Homo sapiens: one gene and its partner. The protein of the gene in region 1 purifies or fractionates together with the protein of each later gene. This does not show direct contact. Each region holds a gene or a part of one and is shown on either strand. Other genes may lie near its edges.

What was found. Proteins that work in one complex are often made in the same cells at the same time.
Region 2: the proteins of KIR3DL3 (region 1) and UFSP2 purify together in Homo sapiens (affinity purification with mass spectrometry, with the first as the bait; one large-scale study listed by BioGRID). This does not show direct contact.

The regions. Positions count from the first base shown.
Region 1 is NC_000019.10:54,734,285-54,737,327, reverse strand, and holds the end of KIR3DL3 (killer cell immunoglobulin-like receptor 3DL3 precursor), read right to left. Parts: intron 2,076-3,043; coding exon 1,971-2,075; intron 1,509-1,970; coding exon 1,456-1,508; intron 1,358-1,455; coding exon 1,232-1,357; 3' UTR 696-1,231; downstream 1-695.
Region 2 is NC_000004.12:185,401,965-185,405,464, forward strand, and holds part of UFSP2 (ufm1-specific protease 2), read right to left. Parts: intron 1,655-3,500; coding exon 1,530-1,654; intron 1-1,529. UniProt on the Homo sapiens protein: Thiol-dependent isopeptidase that specifically cleaves UFM1, a ubiquitin-like modifier protein, from conjugated proteins, such as CD274/PD-L1, CYB5R3, DDRGK1, MRE11, RPL26/uL24, TRIP4 and RPL26/uL24.

The sequences.
Region 1 (3,043 bases):
GAGGCTGAGGGAAGAGAATCGCTTGAACCTGGAAGGCGGAGGTTGCAGTGAGTTGAGATCACGCCACTGCACTCCAGCCTGGGTGAGAGAGTGAGACTGTCTCAAAAAAAAAAAAAAAATAGCATAGCAATTGCATAGAACCCATGCACATCCTCCTGTATACATGAAATCATCTCTTGATTACTTATAATTCCTGACACAGCCTACACGCCACTCAATTTGTGTCGATTCAACATAGTTTTTTGCTTTTTGAAACTTCGGGGATTTTTTTTCTCAAAATATTTTTGATTTATTGCTGATTCAATAAACATGTGTAAACCCCAGAGATATGGAGGAGTGACTGTCTATTTATAGTAGTATGAAAGATGATGTGTTGATACGTGTCCCTGTGGAGATGAGACTAACAAGGCCTATGACTCTACAAATGTTTCATCGTGGAATGACTCTGCCAGCTTTCCAGATCTGCAGAGAGTAAGAATATCACTTGTTCATCTGATTCACCATCCTTGGAACCTCCTATGTGCTGCATCTTTGGATGGAAATTGGAGTCTCAGAGACAATTCAGGCTCCACCATGCTTCCAGAAGCTCAGAGTCCAGGGCTGAGAACCCAGCGGAGAACAGATGGGGTTATGTGGACGTGGTAATGATAACACCGGAAGCCTTAGGCAAGAAAAGAGTCCCATTGAAGAAACCATGAGGGCAGACATGTTTACTTGAAGAATAGAAAACTACATTGAAATTATAAAAAAAATTTATAAGTTTTACTGCTGACAGAAGGCTGAAAGATACTCTGAGGAAAGGTGGAATAGCACGTATCTAAGTGCCGTGTTAAGAGGGAGCCTCTTATATGTTTGGAATTGTGAGTTCCTCAGTGTGATCGCAGCCTCAAGTAGACTAGGAAGTAAGCCAGTTAGGTTGGAGAGGTGGGCAGGGGTCAAGTGAAATGGAGAATTGTGGGCTAAGCAAGTGTGTTTTCTCTCCAGCAGGCAGTGGGGACCTTAGACATTTGTAAGCAAGAGAGAGGCATGTTCAGATTCGTGGTGTGAGGAAGAGCGATGCCCTAAGATGCAGACTCACGCCTTCAGAGTCCAGCTGCTGGTACATGGGAGCTGGCAACCCGGTTTTGAGACAGGGCTATTGTCTCCCTAGAAGATCCCATCAAGGCCTGACTGTGGTGCTAGTGGACAGAAGACAACTTTGGATCTGCGCTCAGCATTTGGAAGTTCCGTGTTACACGCTGGTATCTGTTGGGGGTGTCTTGGGCCTCTGAGAAGGGCGAGTGATTTTTCTCTGTGTGAAAACGCAGTGATTCAACTGTGCGTATGTCACCTCCTGAGGGTCTTGTTCATCAGAGTCCTGGAGGGAGGGAAATGCTGAGTGAGGGAGGGTGCTCACATTTTCCAGGACTCTTTGGGAATAAGACTAGCCACGAGGCTGGGCGGAGGAGCACCTACCTCCCTGTTCACTGTTCTGTTCCCTGCAGGCTCTTGGTCCATTACAACAGCATCTGTAGAAGACGGAAGTCGTCAAAACAGCTCGGAGGGCACTTCTGGGTCCTCATTTCATAAGCAGATACCAACATACAGGGGGAGGCCATAGGTGCCTGAGGTCCCTCAGTTGCCAACAGCAGACTCAGACATTCTATCTCTCTGAGCTCAAGGATCCATCCCATGTATAGCTCTGAGTTCCCATCCTATTGATTCTGTGTCCCACTTTCTGCCTGTCATGGAACCTTCTCCTGGATGTGAGTGGCTGCAGGGGATGTGAGGATACGGTTCAGAATCAGGCAATGGTCTGTGAGCTGAAGGCAGAGGCAGGGAGTCTGGTGCTCTCTCTAGAAAGTCCTGCCTCTGTGGCTCCTGCCTTGGGCCAGGGACCATCCAGTCTGTGAGGAACACACACCTGAGTGCTCCCATCCTGCTTCCCCACATGGCCCTGAGCTCTCTGGCTTCTGCTTCGTGAGACTTACTCTTTTTGTTGGCACACCAGCGATGAAGGAGAAAGAAGAGGAGGATAGCAAAGGGGATGATGACCACTGAGGTCCCAATCAGAACGTGCAGGTTTCTGGAGTTACCTGGAGGAAGACAAGACACCAATAAGAAGCTAATCATAGCAGTTCCTCTATATGAATTGTCTCACATTTCTTGATTGACAGGTAACCACATACAACGTCTCTTTAGGACAAGCACCCAGATGGCGGGAGACCTAGCTTCCTCCTGCTTTCTCAGTTGTAGTAACCATAGAACGTGCTGAGGATACAACTGCTTTAGTTTAGATGTTTGACCCCTTCAAACCTCACATTGAAATGTAACCCCCAGAGTGGGAGGTTGGGCCTCTTGGGAGTTGTTTGGGTCATGGAGGTGGATCCATCATGAACAGATCAATGCTGTTCCAAGGAGACGGGGTTAGCAAGTTCCCCCTCTATTAGTTCCTGGAGAACTGGTTGTTAAAAGAGCTTGGAAGCTCCATCGCTCCCCCTCCCCCTTGGTCCCTCTCTTGCCGTGTGATCTCTGTGGTCTCTGCACAGACAGACCCTCCTTCCCTTCTGCCAGAGTGGGAGCAGCCTGAGGCCGTCACAAGAAATAGATGCTGGTGCCATGCTTCCAGTACAGCCTGCAGAACTGTGAGGCAAACACATTTCTTGTCTTTAGAAGTTACCCAGGCTCAAGTGTTCCTTTAGAGCAACAAAAATGGACTAAGACAGCAACGTCCTGAGATCAGGAGGAACATCCCAGAACAGCCTGGGCTGTCTTCCTGTTCTTCCTGGAGGAGGACGTCATGCAGTGCTTTAGCTGAGTGCTTCCTGTGGCTCCAGGGTACAAAACCCAGGCTGGGCTGCTTTTTGATTTCCCCCAGATACACTGCATATGGGGTGACTCCACATGTCTCGAGCAGCTTTTCTGAGCCTTGAGGGACTGGCTCACATTGAAATGTAGGTTTCTGTTGTCACTCGCTGCTTATCTGTTAGTAATGAACCTGCCTGTGTAATGTGTTCTCTGTGTGTTCTGTCTCCCTGGAGTGACGGTGAGTGATAGGAATTGG
Region 2 (3,500 bases), on another chromosome or scaffold:
CTGACTGAGCTTGGTGTGTCCTTCCAGCCTCACCTCTTCGCCTAGCTCTGGACGCACTGATCTACCTGCAGTGCGGCTTTCACTGTTTCTACAAGGCAGGGGCCACCACAGCACCAGCCTCGTAGAAGCACCTGAGATACCATTTTTTTTTTCTCGAGAGTCCTTTTTGCACTCTCCTTCTCTGTCCTACCCTAAAGGTTTTAGCTCCCGAAAAACCTCGTGTAATACTAGTGCTTAGGACAGTGCCTGGCACTTGTTAGGTACTTTAATAAATACTGAATGGAATGAACACCTTGCTACAGAACAAGAATATTGCTACTATATTCAGTAAGATACATGCACCAGTCAAAAAACCTTTTATAGACTTCAAATTCCAAATGCTGTGAAAGAGAAAAGGAAAAAAAAACACTTAAAACTGTAACAACACATTTCTATCCTATTAGTGTTTATACCCTTATCATAAACAAAAGACTTCAGTAAACTGAGGATATAACAGAGTTGGACTACACACATTAAAAACTTTTTTTTGAGCTGGAATTTCACTCCTGTTGCCCAGGCTGGGGTGCAATGGCGCCATCTCAGCTCACTGCAACCTCTGCCTCCCGGGTTCAAGTGATTCCCCTGCCTCAGCCTCCCAAATAGCCAAGATTATAGGCGCCCACCACCACACCTGGCTTATTTTTGCATTTTTAGTAGAGATGGGGTTTCACCATGTTGGCCAGGCTGGTCTCGAATTCCTGATCTCAGGTGATCTGCCCACCTCAGCCTCCCAAAGTGCTGGGATTACAGGTGTGAGCCACCACGCCTGGCTTAAAACTCTTTAACATATTAAAACATTTTATCTTTAGTTTATAGTTTAAAAGGTGGTTATGTATTCTCTGCAATTTCAATGTATTTGGCAGCGAATATAAATGTTACTTAAAATTCAAGTTAATTATGTTTTACAATACTTTCTCCTAAAGACTTGGTACTGAGTTTTCATATGTGAGAATTAGTTGCCTATGAATTAACAAATTTTTACCTCCTTTATCTGCTATTGTAAGTAAGAATACTCTTAAATATGTATCAACTTCAAACCCTTTATAGAATGAGATTAGGTTATATGTAAATGAATTAAAATTAGTCAAGCCTCCATAATGTCTAGCATACTGCTTAGCTATCTTTTGGTTAATTCTAAAATTTTAAAAGTTTATATATTCTGCTCATCTATTTTAAGACATTGATAAACTTTGATACATTTGTTTATGAAAGCTCTAAAATCTCCAAAGGAATATATTTATGAGTGTGTGTCCTATTATTAATTTTAATAGCTGAGAAAGTTTCTATAAACCTAAATTTTGTCTTTTGCAATGTGCTTTGTTCTTGCACATTCCCTATACAGAGACGGCTACTTACAACAGCCTCAGAAGGCCTCCACACAGGGAGATCTCTGCCCTCAGCTTATTGTCTTTCTGTTACCAGCCAGTTTGTGATCCTTCATTTCTAGCTTCTTTGCCTTTTGTCTCAATTTGTGTTAAATGGATACTTACCTTTTCCAAAATAACTTGCAGGTCTTCAGCACCGGTATAATGTGGATCTAGAATCAGAAACTTTATCTGCCCTGTAATCTCATTCCATGCAACTCCTAGTATTGTGTGGGCCAAAACTCCTCCCCCTATAGAAGAAAAAATAGGAAATACGAATGAAGGCATAAACAAATGTCAAATGCCTATTCAATTTAAATAGACAGATTACGGCCGGGCGTGGTGGCTCACACCTGTAATCCCAGCACTTTGGGAGGTGGGTGGATCACGAGGTCAGGAGATGGAGACCATCCTGGCTAATGCAGTGAAACCCTGTCTCTACTAAAAAAATACAAAAAAAATAGCTGGGCTTGGTGGCAGGCGCCTGTAGTCCCAGCTCCTGCTGAGGCAGGAGAATGGCATGAACCTGGGAGACGGAGCTTGCACTGAGCCGAGATCATGCCACCGCACTCCAGCCTGGGCGACACAGCAAGACTCTCAAAAAAAAAAACAAAAAAAAACAACATTACTTTGCTTATTAACTGATCTAAAATAGCATTAAAATGGACTACCCTACACTATAAAAGACACAATGTCAGATATACTCTGAAAGGATAAAATTACATCTTTAACACAAAAGATACAATCATATCTATAATCACATACAATTTATATTCTACATTCACATCCATATAATTACCTAAAATGGATTTAGAAAGGGCCATAAACTCCTCCCAACAGAGTAACAATCTGCTGTAGTGCCTCTCTCAGCAGATGGTCCTGCTGCCTCTGAGTACCTCCAGTGATATAGCACTCCATTCATTAAGTTTTTTTTTTTTTTTTTTTTTTTGAGCTAGAGTCTCACGTCACCCAGGCTGGAGTGCGATAGCGTGACCTCGGCTCACTGCAACCTCTGCCTTCCAGGTTCAAGCAATTCTCCTGCCTCAGCCTCCTGAGTAGCTGAGACTACAGGCGCACACCAGCACACCCAGCGAATTTTTTGTATTTTTTTTTAGTAGAGACGGGGTTTCACTGTTAGCCAGGATGGTCTCGATCTCCTGACCTCGTGATCGACCCACCTTGGCCTCCCAAAGTGCTGGGATTACAGGCGTGAGCCACTGTGCCCAGTCTTTTTTTTTGAGACAGAGTCTTGCTCTGCTACCCAGGCTGGAGTACAGTGGGCAATCCCGGCTCACTGCAACCTCCACCTCACAGCTCAAGCGATTCTCCTGTTTCAGCATCCCAAGTAGTTGGGATTACAGGTGTGTGCCACCACACCCAGCTAAATTTTGTATTTTTAGTAGAGACAGTGTTTTGCCATGTTGGCCAGGCTGGTCTCGAACTCTTGGCCTCAAGTGATCCGCCCGCCTCAGCCTCCCAAAGTGCTGGATTACAGGCATGAGCCACTGTGCCTGGCTAGAAAATGTATTTTAAAACATAAGCTCATACAATCAGGAGTCAGGCGTGAGCTACTGGGCCCGGCCTACTCATTAAGTTCTTTCTGATATTTTGCTGACATCAGCCTACCTCCATTTCTTTTTTTTTTTTTTTTCTTTTGAGACAGTGTCTCACTTTTGTAACCCAGGCTGGAGAGCAGTGGATCTCTTGGCTCACTGCAGCCTCCTGGGCTCAAGCAATCCTCCCACCTCAGTCTCCTGAATAGCTGGCACTATAGGCTCACACTACCATGCCAGCTAATTTGTGTGTTTTTTTTTTTTTGGTAGAGACGCGGTCTGGCCCATGCTGGTCTTGAATTCCTGGATGCAAGCTATCCTCCTGCCTCAGCCTCCCGAAGTGCTAGGATTACAGGTGTGAGCCACTATGCCCAGCTTCTACCTCCATTTCTTACACACTAGTCTCACCTTGCCTTCTGTCATCACAGGACAGGTCTTGTTCTTCAAAGAATTAAGCATCTTTAGATCAGCTAATCCAATCTTCTTATTTTACAAATAAAATCCACAGAGGTAAGTAATTGCAAAATCTCACAAAGCCAGCCCA